2 separate regions of the Homo sapiens genome follow, and region 1 is linked to region 2. Evidence: fine-mapped expression QTL. A gene starts in region 2. The other region holds a variant in brackets. All regions are shown on one strand. Distances are from middle to middle.

Region 1 (10,385 bases), 38 kb before region 2:
AAGCGTAGAGAAGAACTTTCCTTTTTTGTGTGCAGTGAAATCAAAGCAAAGTGTAGCCTTGCCACTCGTATGCACACCTCAGGAAAAATCATTCTCTGAAAAATTATTCTTAGGCTGATCTATAGAGATTTTAATACCATGCTAATATACAAACTGAGAGTTTAAAATGCACGCTAATTGTCTTGTGACTGGAGATTTAGGTAAAAAGAATAGTTTTGGACATCACAATGTGATTTATGTGTATGGTTAAGAAAGATTAGGGAAATTTTTCTTCAGGGAAAAATTAGGCCCAAGGTAAAAGTTGTGCTTACTATTCTTCAGCTATATATTGTGTGCATGCAGCAAACTAAAGGTTTTTCTGATATCAATCTCTAAAATTTATATAGTGCTTTACATTTTTCAAAGTACTTTTATTTATATTGTTTACTTTGGTCATTAAAGTAACTGAGACTCAGATGGTTCGGTGACTTATCTAAAGTTACACGGCTTGTAAATGGCATAACATGAACTAGAAACCACCTGTTCTGTCTCTCAGCTCTGTGTGGTTTTACTCATCATGCTACCTCTTCTAAGAGGAAACGTGATTTGAACTCCAGTGAATGAATATGTACATGTTTAGCTTAGATTTTATCATTTACTTGAAGGAGATCCCTGTAACAAGCGACAACCATTTTCCAGAAACCACAGTTGCCGTGGGAACGCTCCCTAAGCTTACTTCTGTCTATGGCATTGTAAATATTTGTTCCTTTGTTTCTCTCCTTGGCCATAAACTCTTTCAGGGCAGGAACTGTGCCTTTCACCTCTACGGCAGGATCCAGCACAGTGCCTATTACAGAGAAGGCTGTTAATAAGTAATTATCCAATACATGCTTGTTGAGAAGGAATATATGAATACAAAAATGAAGCTGGGCATGGTGGCGGGCACCTTTAGTCCCAGCTACTTGGAAGGATGAGGCACGAAAATCACTTAAGCCCACGAGGCGGACGTTGCAGTGAGTGGAGATCGTGCCACTGCACTCCAGCCTGGGCAACAGATTGAGACTCCGTCTCAAACACAAAAAGAAAAAAGCAAGTCTATGTGAGATGTGAGAGAAATGCAAGACATGATAATAAAAACAAAATGCTGTCTGTAATCCTTAATCATGAAGGTCAAAGCTCCATTTATGCCTCCACGCGTGTGAAACAGAGGCTGCTTCTTTAAGACCTCAGATGTTAGAAGCCATATGGCATTCTATCCATGTTCAAATTGAAATTAATTTGATGAAGCAAAGGGATGGAGGAGAGAGGTTAGGCCGGGACATAATCTCTTAAGTCCTCAAGATCCAGATCTACTAAATCTCCCTGCAAAAATCATAGTAATCTTCACAACATGACATCTTCAGTGAGCTCTCATATCAGATGACACCCAAATGGCTTTACGGGAAGAGTGGTGCACAAGTCTGTTTACACACAGCATTACACAAATTTCATTCCAAGTCCCCTTCAATTCTCATTACACTTTTTAAAATTACAATTGGAAACCCTGTTTATCACTTGAACTTCTCTGCTTCAACACATTGCCTCATGAAGTGTTGGCTTGTGGCCATTTCAAACACACTGAGCAAAATGGCCCAACAAGTATCGATCACGACAAAGCCTTTCATTTGCTGTGCATTACAGCTTGCCAAAAGTCACACAGTAAGTGGCAGAGGGGGAACAGAACCTAAGGCCTCACTTATCCTTGGAAACATTTTACCTCAATGTACCACAACATTTCAAAAAGTAGATTGAGGAACCCAAAGATATATTTCATTTTTCAGTTCCTTCAGGTTTTTAAGACTTCATTAAGTTTGGGTTCTGAATCATATAGAAACCTCCCAATCCTTTAGTGATAATTATGAAAGCACTCAATACCATCTGGAAGAGCCAAGACATTCTAAGACTAGGACTCGTGATTTACATTAAAGACAGCGTGAATGGTGCCCCCCGGAGTTGTACCATGCAGCATTCCTGCTCAAGTTAATAACGCAAACTGTGCAAAAATGCCATTAATATGGAAACACAGAATGGTCTGAATCATTAGGAAGTGCTGGCTACTCAGATTTTGGAGTGAGGAAAACTATCTTATAGCATGAGAATCAACTGTGCTTGGGGAAATTGGCCCCGTTACTTGGGCACACTTGATTTCCCTCAATGTCTGCTGTCTTAATGTTTGCTTTGTGTTGTTCAAAGAGGCATTATCGCCCTGCTCATACAGTGCCACTAGCCATTTCTCCAACAAGTTAAACAGCATTTGTTGAGGCTGCAGAAAGCAAAGCCAGTACCATTTGTCAAATTAATGACCTCTGAAGCTTTTATGAAAGGGTATGATAAGTCTACATCAGGGGAAATGAGCAAACGTGATGATTAACCTCCCTTCTTTGTTTCTCCAACTGAGCTTAAGGTACTGTGACCGAGCTTTCATGGAAATCAGGAAGATTCTGAGAGAATCCAAATGTGACCATCTGGGAGAGTTAAGAGAAGAAAATACACCATGTGGAGAGACAAGGACTGCCACTCCTGGAGTTCCAAATGGACAGAAGGAGAGAGCTTCCTCGCATCTTTGGGAAAATCCTATCTACATAGCATAAATGCCCCATACTCCACCCTGGAAGAGGCTAATCAGGGGCACCTCCTCATGGGTGCCAGATATTAGAAGATTTTACAGGCTCCATTGCGGCAGAAGGTAATCAAAAAGGCCCAAGCCCCACCCTACAGAGAGCAGCAGCATGACCTTAAACTGCCTTTGCTGGTCACTTGGAGAGGGAGGGTCCATTTTCCTCAGTGGGCAACAAAGCCGCTGATAATCAGGTGCACACATGACGTGGATGTAACCTGCTGAGGAAGTGTCTGATATACCAAAGGAGCCAGGACTCACAACAAGCCTGGCCAGGAAAAAGAAGCCTCAGAGAACCCCAGAGCAGCCTCTACTTTGTAGATGATATGAGTAAATACAACGCAGACAGCCACTTAGCAAGTTCAGAGCCACTTCCAAACGACGCTGAGGGCCTGGTGTCAGCTCCTGCACAGCAGGCTCCATTCTCTCCCCTTCAGGCTGTGTGCATGTTCACTCCAGTGAGTCACAAAGACACATTCCCAGGTGCGCACCTGGCCAAAAGCACAGAAGAGGAAGTCGCACATGTGACCATCCTCTGCCAACCAGCCCACGTGTACAGCAGAAATCAGTATTGTTTGCCTCTGTAATAAAATCATTGCATAAATTTTGTAGAGCTTTGAATCGGCCTCGTAAGTGTCACCAGGCAACTCTTCCAAGAAGGGTAGGGGGATGGTGAGGTAGAGAACTCCAGGGACACAGAAAAGGACCATGGTGTGTTTCTTGCAAAGCCCTTGTGCTGGAAATGCTATGAAGGCAAAAACTTTATGCTGACCATGAAACCCAATCAATATAACACAAAATTCAGGCCAGGTACAATGGCTCACACCTGTAATTCCAGCATTTTGGGAAGCCAAGGCGGGCAGATTGCTTTAGCTCAGGAGTTCGAGACAAGCCTGGGCAAACATGGCGAAACCCCGTCTCTATAGAAAATACAAAAAAAGGCCAGGAGTAGTGGCTCATGCCTGTAATCCCAGCACTTTGGGAGGCCGAGGCAGGCAGATCACCTGAGGTCAGGAGTTCAAGACTAGCCTGGCCAGCATGGTGAAACCCTGTCTCTACTAAAAAATACAAAAATTAGCCAGGTGTAGTGGTGGGTACCTGTAATCTCAGCTACTTGGGAGGCTGCGGCAGGAGAATCGCTTGAACCTGGGAGTGGGAGGTTGCAGGGAGCCAAGATCACACCACTGCACTCCAGCCTGGGCAACAAGAGTGAAACTCCATCTAAAAAAAAGAAAAAAAAAGGAAAAGAAAATACTAAAAAATAGCCAGGTGTGGTGGTGCACGCCTGTGGTCCCAGCTACTTGGGAGGCTGAGGTGGGAGAATCACTTGAGTCTGGGGTGCAGAGGCTGCAGTGAGCTGAGATCATGCCACTGCACTCCAGCCTGGGCAACAGAGCAAGACTGTGTCTCAAAAAAGAAAAAAAATCCTCGATAAAACTACAGAACCTTGCACTTGTAGCAACCAATGCTTCCACTCCACACTGGAGTTCTCTCTGAAAGCATTGCAAAAATCCCTGTTAAGGTCATGGGCCAAAACATAAGGGAGACAAAACCACAAAGGGTGACATCAGTTGCTTGTAATGGTTTAGCTGCCATGTGGTGGTAGCCATAAGACGGCTGCTAATCTGTATCTTCAGCCAAATTACACTTCTGAAAACCTTGTGCTCAATAAGCAACCAGCTGACTGGACTAAGACCACCACAAGGATGGAGAAGGGCAGATTCAGATTTTATGGTACCTGAAAATCATTCAAGTTGGGGGCCTTGTCCAATAAAAATAGTATAAAATTTCACATTCAAAATTGCTAGGCACCTCCCAGAGTCGTGGAAGGAGACCACGTGACCAAGTGAGGGGCCATTAAACCCATGGTTCCCAAACTTTGCCATACAGTAGAACCACTTGGGGAGCTTTTAAAAAGTCCTGGTGCCCAGTTCGCACCCCATATCAATTGAATCAGAATGTCTGGGGGTAGAAACCAGGCACTGGCATTTTTAAAGAGCCTGTGGTGATTCCAATCTGCATGAAAGTTTGGGAACCACTACCTTAAGGGTTAAGCCTTATTGACGTTAAGTCAGCCTCCAGCTAGGGAACATAGTTTTCATTCACTTATTTAACTAACATTTGTGGAGCAA[C/T]TGCCCTATGTCAAGCACTGTATCCCCCAGCATTTAGTGCTGTGCCTGACATGGAGCTGGCCATCAGCAAACGCTTGCTGAATATAAAAATGAATATGTTCAACAGTGTCTCCCGTTTCACATTGGAGATGGGTTGTAGACTGGATGTGGAATTCCAGTTTATCTTTCTCTTTAGATGTGTCAGCATTTTAAAGGAATACTTTAGGCTTACCCCAGGATAGACATGCTTCATGGCTTCACCATACATATTAGGTGCTCCCTGTAGATTCTGGATATAAAAGAAGTCAGTCAGCAAGCCTACTGAAATATAATGAAATCTCTTTTTTATCTACCATCCTGCTCTTTGTTTTCTTGAAAATGGATCCATGTATGTGGAAGAATATTGAGTATATCTAACTATAGGGATTCCAAAAGTCTCTAAGGATTCTTATTTTATCTCCCTTATCTATCTTACCTATCATAACTTCAGCAAATTCATCTCCTCCTACTCTTCCCATATTGTAGGGTCTAGGTCTCAAAATTCAACTCATACTATTGCTCAGATGCAGAGAGAAAGGTAACAGCTTCATTTTGCCTGTGACAAATCTGCTATTTCTCTGGAGCCCCCATCTGTTAGTAGCAGGAAAATTAACAAACTGAAGACCCAATTCAGTTTCAATTTACTCTGGTCCAATAACTTAAATAGAGACTTTAAGAATTGCCCAGTCCTTAGTGGGGCATGGTGGCGGGTGCCTTTAATCCCAGCTACTTGGGAGGCTGGGGTGGGAGAATTGCTTGAACCTGGGAGGTCGAGGCTACAGTGAGCCGAGATTGTGCCACTGCACTCTAGCCTGGGTGACAGAGTGAGCCTCCGTCTAAAAAAAAAAAAAAAATTGCCCAGTCTTTAATTAAAAAAAAAAAAAAAGATTCAGTGCTTAAATAGCTTCCTCTTAAGACGGAGCCCAACTTTATGAAAGAGAGGTACACCTGTGAGACCTCACGGTAGGTGTGGAGAGGATTATGTTCTTTCCAACTCTAGCCTCTTGGTTTCCAACATGCTGATTGCTTCACTGTTGTGTGAGGCTGTGTCGTGAAGCTAATGTAATTTAGGGATTTTGTTTTTCTTGGCCTGGGTAAGACTCCACAGTACTCCCTGAGTGAGTAGGCCTCATCACAGTTCCCACTGGCAACAAACCTTTGAGCCTCTCACATATACATCATTCCTCTAGTCTCTGCTGTGGCACAATCGTTCCCTGCCATGCAGGTGTGTTGGCATGTCCACTAGCTCTCAACTCAGCATTGATATTGCATGGGAACTTCAGGAATCACAGGAAAGCTAAAATTCAGAACCTCCCTCTACAGGTGAGATATGGCCAAGCCCTGGGTTGGAATGAGAGTGGTCTGAGTGATTTCCTTGTTAAGTCCCAAAAGAGGAGTGGGTGGAAGCATTTATCTGCTGTCCTTAATTGTCATGGAGGGTGGGCAGTGGTGGAAGGGTGCTGTTGAGCCTGCATATAAACTACAGGGAGATATTCTCTCACTAAATATATACATCACTTATAGTTGTGTAATCCTCAAGAGACCCCCACATCTCCGACTAGCATAGAAGTTGGAAGAGTGAAAGTACATAGCTTCAGGAGAAGTGAGATGGACCTTGAACTTTCAGAAACTGATGGAATGAACAGCTATTAACTAGCCCCCTTGTCTTCCTCCTATCTTGAATTGTCACCTCCTTAGTCCCACTAACTGAGCACAGTGCTTAACACACAATAAGTTCAAATCACAATATACTTTGGAATGAATGAATGAATGAGAAGTGTTAATCTACAATTCAGTTTCTCTCTTACGGGTTCAATAAGCTTCAACAAAGCACTTGGTGATCACATATTGGAAATTCATCTTTGACTGAAGACATGACACTCTCAATAGAACCTATGTTCTATTAACATCCCATTTCTCCCAGGGAGGGCCACATCGTCCGCCCACTGAAACTCTCCAAGGTCCAATAGCAATCTTACTGGAGTGCAGTTTGAGAGAACTGGTCAAGAGTGATGATAGGGGCTTTACAAAGAAAAAATTGAGCTCAAATTTTAGAGCAAGAAAAAATGGATTTTAACCAAAGATAAGTATTCCCAAACTCTACGATGTGGCAAATAAGCTGATGGTAGCTCCTCTGTATTAGACACAGACACAGATAAAAATCAGTAGACCAATCCAATTCTTCTACTAACAATCACATCAACTACCAAACTTCTCTTCTGCTCCTTCTGCACTTGTTTCCAGAACCGACGTCCACTCCCCGGGACAACCCGCCACATGTACACTGGCTCCGCTGCCCAGTGTTTCTGTTGTTTGGAATTATTTAGGCAGAGCTGTAACCCCTTTCCCATAACTACCCCCTCCCCACCATCCAATTGCTTTCTTCTGGTTCTTTTTATCTACAATTTCAAAAGAAACATTTTGGCTCCCATTGGCAACAAATCCTTGAATCTCTTTCTCATCATTTCTCTAGATGAGAGGCTTAAAGGGGAAATAAGACAGGAAGAATTTTTTTTTCTTTTTCAATTAACTTCAATTTCTTTCAAGTCTAAGTAAACTCTGGCCCCAGAACAACCAGGATGATATAATTATGGAAACTATTAATCTCTCCATCAAAGGAGAGCCAGCTCATGGTTACGGAGCAGTTGGCACGTTCCTCCAAAGGGTTTCTGCAGCATGATGTTCCTGGTTTCCCTCGGAGTCACAAATGCTCAGGGTACACCTTTTAGCAAGTAGGCAACTTCCTAAGAAAATGAAATAATCCATGAGTACTTTGTGAGTTGTTCTGGGAAATTGGGCATTTTTCCTTAATTGCTCTAAAGAAATAGCCAACTCACACTAAAGCATGTTCAAACAGAATGAAAGAGAAAAATCTAACATTTTCAGATCAGTCAAGGCTCATCCAAAATTGTGAAATTTGGATCTTTAAAGACCAGTCAGATATCACTTGATGTGAGCAACGAACAAAGGGGTGCATCTGGAACAAGAAGTCTCCAAATTGCTTTGAATATTGAACATCATGGAAATGGCAACAATCTCTAGAGGTCACTTAGGACAAACAGAACAGTTATCTGGTTTGTTCAAACCTAAAATAAATATAAAAAGAAATTAGAGAATTTAATTTAGAGATTTTATTCCAGGGCATCAACAAACTTTTGTTCTTCCAATGACAACAGAGTACAGACTTCTCTGTGATGGGGGGCAGGGGCAGTGTTAAAGGATTTAGGAGTTTCCTCCAGAAATTCCTGCCAATTGGCTTATTCCTGGGTACAGATAGGAAAAGTCCAACACCAGTTGCATTTTGAAGGAAGCACATTCATAGATTGACAAAGGCCATCAGCCTTCCAAAATACAGCCCCCCAAAAGAACGAATTTGCAGAGATGCCAAATTCCTCAAATGGTTTAGGTTCAACAGGCACCACTCAAAACAAAACTACATGATCGTATGTTGAGTGACATAATAAAGCCATAGTATATGCATTTGCTTGAATTGTGGGCTGTGATTAATATATACAATCCTTACCCACTGACTGCTTTCAATGTATACTGCTTCCTGGAAGCAAGCCCATACTTCAGGAAGTCAGGCTTCTCCAAGGGAACGGGAAGCCTCTTTGTTCCTTCTTCCCACTATCCTGTTGTTGGAGCCTGCATGCACATTGGGCCTGAGCAGGAAAGTGTCACTTCTGTGAAGAGACTGTTCACAGAACTTTAATTTCTCTTGTAATCATATAAAGCCTGAATGGTAAGGGGGAAAACCCATAAAGGTCATTATAAACAGATCCCGTGATGTCAAAGGAAAAACAGCTGGAGAGAGGGAGTTTAATAAGCAGCCTTCTTTTATTACAACAGGCTTGACGTCATTGATCATTTATTATTTCCAACACTAAAACATAAAGCCATGTGCTACACTGTGGACCAGGATGAAAAGGATATGTGGACTTTTCTGAGTATTTTAATATCCTTTTATTGACAGTAGATAGAAGATCTGAACAAGGACTGGGAACAGGAAATGATTTTAGCGATTTCATTACAGTAATAGAGAAAAGCATTACCAATGGCAGCATTTGGCAGATGGTCTGGTAAGTCCTGAACCTCTAAACAGCCTGCAGGTCAACAAGCTCAATATTGATACAAGGTCAGTATGTAATTATGAGGTGTTCTAGCAAGCAGAATAGTTTTTATAAATATGGGCTGTAGCCTTGGCAGTGGAACACAGGAAGCTGGTGTTTAAAAGTTAATTTAGGACGGGTGCAGTGGCTCACTGCAGCCTGTAATCCCAGCACTTTGGGAGGCCGAGGTGGGTGGATTACTTTAGGTCAGGAGTTCGAGACCAGCCTGGCCAACATGGTGAAAACCCATCTCTACTAAAAGCACAAAAATTAGCTGGGCATGGTGGCGGGCTCCTGTAATCTCAGCTACTCGGGAGGCTGAGGCAGGAGAATCACTTGAACCCAGGAGGTGGAGGTTGCAGTGAGTTGAGATCGCACCACTGCACTCCAGCCTGGGTGACAGAGCGAGACTCCGTCTCAAAAAACAAGGAAAGGTGTTTAGAGGCAGCACAAAGTATACAATAAGACCACGACTAAAGAGTTCTTGATGCTCCAGTACAAATCAGATTTGCAATGAAATATCAAGCATGGTACATCTTTACTTAGTTTAGCTCTAGTGAAAAATAAACATGGCTGTAGAATTTTCAGAGTTTTGAGACTTTTCAGATCTCACTCAAGAAAACCTAAGAAGTGATCAGCCAATTCATTTTAACCAACATCAAACATCATTTTGGTGAGGCCCCCTTAGAAACAGATTTCCCTGGAACAAAACATTAGTGTTTGGAAGCTCCCTAATATGTGAGATTTGTACAGGCCTTTACAATTTCCAGTGTTAGTTTAATCTCATTAACACTTCAAGTAATCCTGCAGGGTAGGCAATTTAACCTCATCTCTACTCTATAGATGAGGATGCTCAGAAAAGCTAACTGACTTGGTCAAGGTCATACTGACCCTTGATCACCTTGATCAATGGTTTTCTTTTTCATTTTCACCACTAATGTGTGTTCTATTTCTGTTTGATATGATCTATTTCTGTTCAATATTCTATGTATTTTAACAAAATCAAAATCGTATTGCATATCCAATGTGTTGTTTCCCTTTTTAAAAAACATGCTTCCCATTATGCCATACCTGCTTGGTCAAGCATGGGTGTGAAATATAAGTTCCTTACAGGAAATATCCTTATAGGAAACCTTTCTGTAGAAGGCTATGATTTTGAGTGTCCAGCGCCAATTCATCACACGGAGCTACTTTTCCTAAGCCCTAGGTGGAGCAGTCATGTTCAGAGGTGAGAACAGTGGATCTGGTGTTCAGCTTCAAATGTACTATTTCCTTGTGAACTGTCACTTATAAGCTGTAAATCTCTCCCAATTTAGTCCAGTGTCTCTGTACAACCTGTCTCTTTCATCGACATTGTTAGCCCTTTAAATGTTTGTATTCCTTGGAGCTTTGTCCTAAGTCCTTAAGCTGTATCTCTAGCCCACTCTCTCACAGAGTTCCAAGTCTGTATGGAAATGGGACATCTCCATGTGGATGTCCAACAGGTATTCA
Region 2 (10,385 bases):
CAAAAATCAACTCAAAATGGATCACAGACTTATATGTAAAACCTAAAATTATAAAACTTTTAGAAGAAAATGTAAGAAAACAACACAATTAAAAAGCAGGCAGAAGATTCAAACAGGTACTTCACCAAAAAAGATACACAGAGTACAAATAAACACATGAAAAGATGCTCATCATTAGGAATTAAGGAAGTCCAAATTATAATCACAATGAGCTATCATTACATACTTATTAGCATGGCTAAAATTAAGAAGACTGACCATACTAAGTGTTGGTGAGGTTGAGGAGAAATTGGACCTGGAATTATGTCTCATACACTGCTTGTGGTTATGTAAAATGGTAAAAAACTGCTTAGGAAAACAAATTGAAAGTTTCTTAAAAAGTTAAGCATACACCTACCGTATGATCCAGCCATGCCACTTGATATATGGTCTGGCTCTGTGTCCCCTCCTAAATCTGACCTTGAATTGCAATCCCCATAATCCCCACGTATCAAGGGCAAGACTAGGTGGAGGTAAGTGAATCACGGGGGTGGTTTCCCCCATGCTGTTCTCATGATAATGAGTGAGTCTCATGAGATCTGATAGTTTTATAAGCGTCTGGCATTTCCCCTGCTCGCACTTCTCCTTCCTGCCACCGTGTGAATAAGGTGCCTGCTTCCCCTTCCCCTTCTGCCATGATTGTAAGTCTCCTGAGGCCTCCCCAGCCATACTGAACTGAGAGTCAATTAAACCTCTTTCCTTCATAAATTACCCAGTCTCAGGTATTTCCTTATAGCAGTATGAGAATGGACTAACACACCACTCTAGGTATTCACCCAAGGAAAAACAAAGTATATGTCCATACACACTTGTATACAAAAGTTCACAACAGCTTTATCTGTAATAAGCCTTAAACAACTCCAACATTCATCAACAGGTAAAAAATAAATTGTGGTATATACATATAATGGAATACCATTCAGCAATAAAAAAAAAAAAAAAAGCCACTGATATACACAACATGGATGAATCTCAAAATAATTATGCTGTATAAAAGAGCCAGACCAAAAAAAGCATATGAGCACATTCATATAAAACTCTAGAATACATACTAATCTGTAGTGACAGAAAGCAGATCAGTGGTTGCCTGGAGGGGATGGAGGAATGGAGAGGCAAGAGGAAGAGACTACCAAGGACCATAAAGAAACTTTCAGGGGTGATGGGTATGCGCTGTATCCTGATTACAGTGACAGCTTAATCTGCGTACACATCCGTCAAAGTTTATTGGCTGGGTGCGGTGACTCACTCCTATAATCCCAGCACTTTGGGAGGCCGAGGAGGATGGATCATTTGAGGTCAGCAGTTCAAGACCAGCCTCGCCAACAGGGTAAAACCCTGTCTCCACTAAAAATATAAAAATTCGCAGGGATTGGTGGCTCACACCTGTACTCCCAGCTACTCTGGACGCTATGGCAGGAGAATCACTTGAGCCCTCGAGGCGGAGATTGCAGTGAGCTGAGATCGCACCACTGTACTCCAGCCTAGGTGATAGAGACTCCATCTCAAAAAAAAAAAAAAAATCAATGTCAATGATACTTCAAAACAATATGCAGTTTTTTGGTGTTAATTATACCTCAATAAAGTTTTAAATAAAATGACTGAAACAATGAATAGCCATTGACAATTTTTAAGAAAATGAGTACAATTAAGTCTGTATTTCCGGAAAAAAAGGTAACACGGGTGGCAATGTAGAGGACAGAAGGGAGGTGAAAGAGACTAAAACAAGGATTTTAATCAGGAAGCTATTGCTAAAGTCCAGGTAATAAAACAAGAAAGATTACATAGGTCATTTAATGTCTTTTGGCCTCTATTTTCTTAACTGTAAAATAAGGGTACTACCTACATCACAGGGTTATTGTGAAGATCAAATAGAATACTATATATGAAAATGCTTTTGAGCTATAGAATAAAATACAGATATTAAAACACTATGATTAATACTGCAATTACAGACATATAATTATTTATTGTCCTTTCCTTCTAATATTATCATGGTATATCAGTGGTCTTCTAACTCCTAACCTGCTGTCAAATATATGGCCAGAGCTCTCTTTAGGTAGGTAAGTATCAGAACTTTCCCGGCCTACATGTGTATAGGAATACATTCATAAGAGCTACGTATTTAGTCCGAATCTGTTGAGAGCTCAAATCCTCCAGCCTCAAAGACAGAAGTTTAGCATTTATAGCCCCTGGGATCTCATTCCCTATATCATATATGGGTGTGATTACAGACAGGAGATAAAGCCTTTCCCCAGAGTGAAGGACTGAACCGTTTTTAAAACATTCATTCACCATCTCCTCACCCAACAGTCTTCAGAGTTTTGTTTCCAGCCTCATACCTCATCCATTGACATATCCCATACTCTGCAAATTTCATTCTCCATTTCTTCATCAAGCTCCGTCAGCTGCTCCTCATCATCTGAGCTAGATTTGGTGTTTTCAGGGCTAACAATCTTCAGAAACACAAAGAAAGAAAACATGAATAAAAGTTGTCTACAATACTAACCAGGTACCCAAATACAGCAGGTGATCAAATAACATTTCCTCGTAACGCTGATGAGAAAAAAATTTGATTCCTGGCCAGGGCCACTGTCTGTGTGGAGTTTGCATGTTCTCCCCAAGAGTGCATGAGTCTGTTCCAGGTACTTTAGTTTCCTCCTACATCCCCCAAATTTGCACATTAGCACAACGGGTATCTAAATGGTCCCAATCTGAGTGAGTGTGGGTGTGTGTGTACCTGTGATGGGATGGCATCCTGTCCAGGGCTGGTTTCTGCCTTGCACCTTGAACTGCTGGTACAGGCTCCAGCCACCCTCAACCCTGAACCAGAGCAAGTGGGTTGGGAAATGGATGAATACAAATTATTATAAAACAAAAATCTGTAAAGAAGACAATAACCATAGAGATGCGTGACAATAATTATGTGGTAGGAAAGTGCTCAGTAAGCCTGCCTTATTTGTTATTGTTTTTGGACTGTACAGTAGTAAGAGGTGATCATTTTTGCTTTGTAAACATTTATTCCTTGATTTAACACAATCAAAGAATAAAGGTTGTAGTGATAATCACTACAACCACCATCACTCACTAACTCACCAAAACTGGGTGAATAATTATCTTGTTTTTATTAACCTTTCCTAAACGTATTATAGCTCACATTTATCTCAATGTTTAATATTAGAAGTGTTTTAGGTCCTCATTTAGAAGTTTGGTGATGTTCTTGTGTCCAGAAATATGCCACAGGGACTTAACTCTTGTTTATATCAATTAGCTATGGTAAAATTGGTTTCATTATCAGTAATTTTGCTTACAGTCACAATTTCCAAGAACCTACTGATGTTAAGTGAGCACTTACTTTAATATTAACCCATAATCGTTTAGAAGTCACAAAGAGGCTATCAGCAAAGTATCTTCTCTTGCAAAAATCTTCTTTTAAAAATGTAGTACCTTGGGTAGATCTACTCTTTCAACATTCACAAAGTAAATACTGTTGCTAGGCACTGGGGTAGATATACAAAGACAAGTAAGATATAATCCCTTACATTTAAGCTTTTTTTTTTTTTTAACTTTTAGGATCTAGTGGGGAAAGACATGTAAAGGGATAGTCATATTAGAAAAGGCAAAGTGATTCAACTGAATTGTGGACAAAGAGTTCTGGTAGCAAAAACGATGGACCAATGACCTATTCCTAGGAGAAGATGGGGAACCTTCCCTTAGGTGCTGATATTTAAGCTAAATTTTAAAGGAAGAATAGTAGTTTGTCATGTGAAGAAGGAGAGAAGTGAGTATTCAGAGGAAAGCACAAGAGTTCAGAGTTAAGAAAGGGCCTAGCATGTTTGGGGATGGTGAACAGTTCAGAGTTGATGGAACACAGTGTATCATGAGAAGATGAGGCTGGAAAATGTACAAACAGCCCTGGATTCCAAACTTCAAGAAACATGCATTTTTCTCCCAGGCAAAAAGAACTAAGAGCAGTATCATGAATAGCCCTGTCTTTAAAGAAGATTATTCTGGCAGCTGTGTAGAAAATTGACTGGAGAGGATAGACAATAGGAGGAGAGGAACCAATTAGGGAAACATGGGGGGAAGAAAACACATTTACTGACAGCCTCCTATAAGCCAAACACCATGCTAAGCACTCTGTTGCCATTATAATCTCACTTAACCTACACAATAACCTTATATATAATATAAATATTATAATCCCATTTTATAGAAATTAAGGGACAAATAGAGGTTCTGAGCCGTTAGGTGACCTGCAGCTAGTGGGTAAGGAAGCTGCGTTTTTTGTTTTTTTGAGACAGGGTCTTACTCCGTCCCCCAGCCTGGAGTGCAGAAGCTGGATCATAGCTCACTGCAGCCTCCAACTTCAGGCTCAAGCGATCCTCCAGCCTCAGCCTCCTGAGTCGCTGGGACTACAGGCGTGCACCGTCACGACCGGCTTTTTTTTTTTTTTTTTTTTAAGTTTGTAGAAACCAGGTCTATGTTGCCCAGGCTGGTCTCAAACTCCTGGCTCAAGCGATCCTTCCGCCTCGGCCTCCCAAAGTGTTGGGATTACAGAGGTGAGCCACCGCGCCTGGTCAGAAGCCACGTTTTTAATATAAAAGTTGTATAACCCTAAAGTCACCATTTATTCTATTACAACGATAGTCCATGAAATACATAAATTAAGGACCTGGGCTTCAGAAATGACAGTGGGGATGGGGAGCAAAACCCGAGGAATGCAGTTACACGATCATGTATTTTTGGAGAACTTGGGAAAGCAAAATAGAACGGCAAGTATTTCAGCATCCCTACCATTATACTTCCCTTTGTGTCGAGAGACCCCGAGGGGGCCCAGATAGTTTTGGGGTCCGCAGCGGCCGGCGAAACGCAAGGAGCAAGGTCCCGCAGCGCACGCCTGGGGAGGGGTCTTTGTGGGGATGGCGGCTCCCGGGGCAGGAGGATTCGCCAGAGGCGGAGCCCCGGTGCCTGGGGGATGTAGGGACACCCCACGCGTGGCGCGAGTTTCCACACCTGGATGAGTCCGCTGAGGACGCCGAAGAGCCAGTGTTTGCTGTAGACCGTGCTCCCTATGCAGTCTCCACCGGCCACCTCCTCCTCCTCCTCCTTGTCGCGACCCGGCGGCGGCGGCGAGGGGTTGCGGTCCATGACTTTGTCGCGTCCCGCGCTTGAAGGCCGTGCCGGAAGCTGCGGAGGAGACGACCGGCGCCCTAGTGCCAGAGCGCCCGGCGTACCCGGTGGGACTCCCCCTACAGCGCCATCTGCTGTTCGGAGCCTGGCCAGCTGCCAAGGCGGCTTGACCTCCCCCACCCCATCCTATCGAGGACCCTGGCACGAACATACTCATAATTATTTGTCACCCTCACTGAATCAGGTGTTCCATTTCTCCAGGAGCTCTTAGACTGATTGAAGAAGGAAGGGTGGGGAGCAGTGAGGAAGCCTCAGGAACAGATGTGAATCTCAAAGCTAGCGGACTTATTCTATTCGCCTTCTGATCTATGTTGCCCAGGCTGGTCTCGAACTTCTGGCTCAAGCAATCCTTCTGCCTCGGCCTCCCAAAGTGTTGGGATTACAAACGTGAGCCACCGCGCCTGGTCAGAAGCCACTTTTTTTATATAAAAGTTGTATAACCCTAATAATATAATCCTCTGATCTCTGGCCACTGTTGCCATTCCTAAAAATATCCGTAGGGGAAGCTGGATGGCTTGTGAGGGATTCCAGGGATCCAAAGTGATTCGAAAAACTAAAGAGGCACCATTTGTCCCCATTGGAATGGCAGGTTTTGCAGTAGTTGCTGCATACGGATTATACAAATTGAAAAGCAGGGGAAATACTAAAATATCACGTCACCTGATCCACATGCGTGTGGCAGTCCAGCTTTGTTGTAGGAGCAATGACTGTTGGTATGGGCTATTCCATGTATCCGGATTTCTATGCAAAACTTAAACCTTAGAAGAAGAGATGTTGTCTTTGTCTTGTTGGAGGAGCTTGACTCATTAATGAGTCATCTCATTATTGAAGTTACATGTTTATGTTGAACATAAATTATTTGGGTAGGTTCAGATGATACTACGGTATTTTGAATAGTCGCTTCCTTTCGTGTAGGCTTGATTTGCCTGGTGACCAAATTATTAGTGACTAGTTCACTAACTAGATCATTCCGGGGAGCCAAGTTAACACACAAGAAACACGTCACCTAAATGCGCTTGATGGTGTTAAAATGTCCAACTTCTTAAACTGTTAAGATGAAATTAATACTAAGGAAGATAGCAGGCCAATCCTGAAGTACTCCCAGTTTGCTGCAGAATCTTGCATGTTTCGAATGTTAAGAGTCCAATTTACTCCAGTTAATTTAACTTTTTTTCTGTCTGTCTTGTGGACTGGTTGGCTCTTTTAGAACTCTTTAAAAAAAAGTGCATGAAATATAACTTGTAAAGCCTCCTACAACTGACAGTATTGTGTGCGTGTGTTTAAACCGAATCTAGAAACCTTACAACAGACCTGCATAGTATTAGTATTGATTAAAGAACCACAATTGTAAACATGAGAAAACCTTAATTATGGATTTCAGTTTAGCACTTTTGTAATTGCAGAATTACATTTTTGCTGCTGTTATATTAGAAGAATTTTTCAGTGTCATCTTGAAATAGAAATGTGTATTTTAAGCACCCATGCAAAGGTAAATGAAAAACACTTCTTTCTCCATAAGAATCGTAAACATTAAACTAAAAAAATTACCTATGATGGAATTGATTTACAAGTACCCACTTTGATTTAATGGAATTAAATTTATAGATGATATAAGCTACTTCCACATGAAATTTCAAAAATATCAATATAATGACCAAACAGGAATGGAGACATGAAATTATTTATTTATTTATTTATTTTATTTATTTTGAGACGGAGTCTCGCTGTCGCCCAGGCTGGAGTGCAGTGGCGCGATCTCGGCTCACTGCAGGCTCCGCCCCTTGGGGTTCCCGTCATTCTCCTGCCTCAGCCTTCAGAGTAGCTGGGACTACAGGCTCCCGCCACCTCGCCCGGCTAATTTTTTTTTTGTATTTTTAGTAGGGACGGGGTTTCACCGTGTTAGCCAGGATGGTCTCGATCTCCTGACCTCGTGATCCGCCCGCCTCGGCCTACCAAAGTGCTGGGATTACAGGCGCGGGCCACCGCGCCCGGCCGAAATTATTTAAAATAAAATGTCCACATGAATATTTTAAATACTCAGTCATAACTATATTAGAAAACATAATGAAGGTGTCCAATGTTTGCCTAGAATTACTGTGATACTTACGTCAAAGTCAAACAAAACATAGAGATGAATCTCTAAATTTAAAGCAATTGATTTAGAAAGTAAGAATTACAATTCAGGGCATACACACAGATGAGACAGGTGGGCGTCTTCAATATATCTGAAGTACAAAGAGAAGGTTGGGGCTTTTATAAAAAGGAGAAATGTTACACGTTGTTTTGAAAGAAATTTTATTGGTTTTAGTAAGGTTTGGGGGAGCTTGCAAGCTAGGATTGGTGAGAGATGGCAGCAGGTAAAATTAGTCTTAGAGTCACAGTAGGTTGTTTCAGCAGTTGTTAGATAAAACTGGTCTCCGTTTACAAGAGGCAGTTTCAGCAGTCAGGCTTGCAGAGAGTTACCTTTTTGGAGACAGAAGGTCTCCCTGTGTTGCTCAGGCTGGTCTCCAACTCCTGATCTCAAGTGATCCTCCCACCTCAGCCTCCAAAAGTGTTAAGATTACAGGCATGAGCAACCATACCCAGCTCATTTCTTTTATTTATTTTATTTTAATTAATTAATGTATTTATTTATCTTTTGAGATGGAGTCTCGCTCTGTCGCCCAGGCTGGAGTGCAGTGGCACGATCTCGGCTCACCGCAAGCTCCGCCTCCCGGGTTCACACCATTCTCCTGCCTCAGCCTCCCGAGTAGCTGGGACTACAAGTGCCCACCACCACGCCTGGCTAATATTCTTTGTATTTTTAGTAGAGACGGGGTTTCACCATGCTGGCCAGGATGGTCTCGATCTCCTGACCTCGTGATCCACCGCCTCGGCCTCCCAACTCATTTCTTTTATCATATACACACATATAGGTTATGTTTACCAACCATCATATTGATGTGAGTCCACAATTCAATACTTGCTGGTTTATGATATATAATTTATGTTAAATTTTGACATATACTCATGGTATATTATTTGTTTTATTCTTAATAAAATAAAAATGAGTTTTAAAAAGAAGAGGCCAGGACTGGGCGCGATGGCTCATGCCTATAATCCTAGCACTTTGGGAGGCTGAGGTGGGCTGATCACTTGAGGTCAGGAGTTCAAGACCAGCCTGGAAAACATGGAGAAACCTGGTCTCTACAAAAAATATGAAAATTAGCCAGGCATGGTTGCGCACACCTGTATTCCCAGCTGGGAAGATGGCTTGAGCCTGGGAGGTGGATGTTGCAGTGAGCTGAAATCGCACCGGTGCACTCCAGCCTGGGTGACAGAGTGAGATCCTGTCTCAAAAAAAAAAAAAAAAAAGAAAGAGGCCAGTCTAAAATTCATTTGTAAGTTGTTGGCATTACTGAGATAACCTCCCAATGTCTTCTCAACTTTTATTTGAGTCTGATACTCACAGCTAGGCTCCATGAGTTTTGTTTTTTTTCTTTTCTCTTTGGATCTCAGGTGCACAGAATTGGATTAATCATAATCCTTAGTTATTACACACTCTCCAATGTCATCAGTGTGCTAATCAAACAGAATTACATTTTATAACCAGAAAGCAGGTTTTTTTTCCTTTCTTTTTTTTTGTCCCAATATCTCTCACTTTGATCCTGAACACAAGTCAATTCATGCCTTCCCTAGTTACTCAAAGGTTATTGAAAGTACTGTACAGGCCAGGTACGGTGTTCTCATGCCTGTAATCTCAGCATTTTGGGAGGCTAAGGTGGGAGGATCACTTGAGCCCAGGAGTTCAAGACCAACCTGGGCAACATAGTAAGACCCTGTCTCTACAAATGTTCTTTTTAAAATTAGCCAGGTGTGGTGGGGAGCACCTGTAGTCCCAGCTACTCAGGAGGTTGAGGTGGGAGGGTAGCTTGAGCCCAAGAAGTTGAGACTGCAGTGAGTGGTGATCATGCCACTGCACTCCAACCTGGGCAACAGAGCAAGACTCTGTCTCAAATAACAAAACAAAACAAAACAAACAGTGTTATACAGGTAGTAATTTAAAGCCACAGGTTTGATGGCATTTAGTTTATCTCAAAATGGTAACTAGAAAGTCCAGGTCCAAGTCATGATTTGAAGCTTCCAATTCATTTAAAATGAAAATTTCTCTCCCCTTTCCTAGTTAAGCCCACTATAGATGGGTACTTCAGTCTGGAGGGGGGTGATGACTTTGTTTCCTTCCCTGCTTCCTCCTCCCACAGATAGACAGCTGCTCTTTCTGACCTCTCCCCGATTAGGGGGGAAGGATTGGAAGTGAGAGGGGAGGGAAAGGAAAATTCTTACTTGACTGGTGTTTTCATAAGATGGTTTCATGTTCTTTGGGCCCAGCAGGTGTTTGAAGCTGATTCTGTGTATGTGTGTTGTGGATTCTTCACATATACCACCTCCATCGCTGGAGACGCCTCTCCACAGCTCCCTTGAATAGCGATGCAACCTCCTCCATCTTGCTGGTTTTTTCTCAGCTCCTTATTGCTCCTCACACACACAGATTTGATATGAGATTCATAGATTACTAACTAGGGTAGCTCATGGAATACATTCATAGGAGCAGTGATTACATGAACTCATATGTGCAAGCGTGTTTTATAAGTTCTAAACTCCAATGCAATTGCTAGTTACAGCAAATGGTTCAGAATGTTGACTCTAGCATCAAACTAGCAGTGCAACTTGTGTATGTTATCTAAATTGTCTGTGCCTCACGTTTCCTGAGCTCTAAAATAAGGATAATTAAAGTGTGAGGATCCAGTGGATAACAGAAGAAATCACTTAGACCAGTGCCTGGCCCTTGGTCACCGCACCATGAATAGTAACTGTCATTCTACCACCTTTATCATGATCACACATTCTTTCACTGCCATTGACTCGTTTAGATGAGCTTGAAAATCAACCAGCAGGAGTACTGCCATATTAACCACTGACTCTGACAAGGATGGAACTGGATTCTCAAGAAGGCATGAACAAAGTGCTATAGAGGCATTCATTATTACCCCAGGGTAAGGATTTAGGAGCTGACAGATCTGATTCATTGAGAAGATGACATTTTACCCTGGCACGAACCAAGGAGTAGTCAAAAAGATAAGAGAAATAGCTTTGAAAGGTATTTCTTAGTACCATGG

Which allele goes with the higher level. Positions count from the first base shown, and alleles are read on the strand shown. Sizes are in standard deviations (SD) of each study's normalised expression.
For the expression in prostate of the gene that starts at base 5,228 in region 2, C is the high allele of the variant in region 1 and T is the other (moderate effect, 0.50 SD a copy in GTEx).

The links. PIP is the estimated chance that this variant, and not a neighbour inherited with it, causes the effect.
Region 1: its variant is the best candidate, but not a certain one, in a credible set for the expression of SAAL1 in prostate (GTEx, PIP 0.68).

The regions. Positions count from the first base shown.
Region 1 is chr11:18,062,632-18,073,016 of GRCh38, forward strand. No RefSeq gene overlaps it. Among named protein-coding and RNA genes, the nearest start is that of TPH1, 22 kb to the left of the region's middle. The variant C/T (reference allele first, on the strand shown) is at 4,768.
Region 2 is chr11:18,100,855-18,111,239 of GRCh38, forward strand. It overlaps SAAL1 (serum amyloid A like 1), which reads right to left and starts at 5,228. Exons shown (of 12, transcript NM_138421.3): 1 at 5,053-5,228; 2 at 2,379-2,492. The coding sequence starts at 5,187. It also overlaps the pseudogene HIGD1AP5. RefSeq lists enhancers at 4,974-5,233, 5,384-5,433.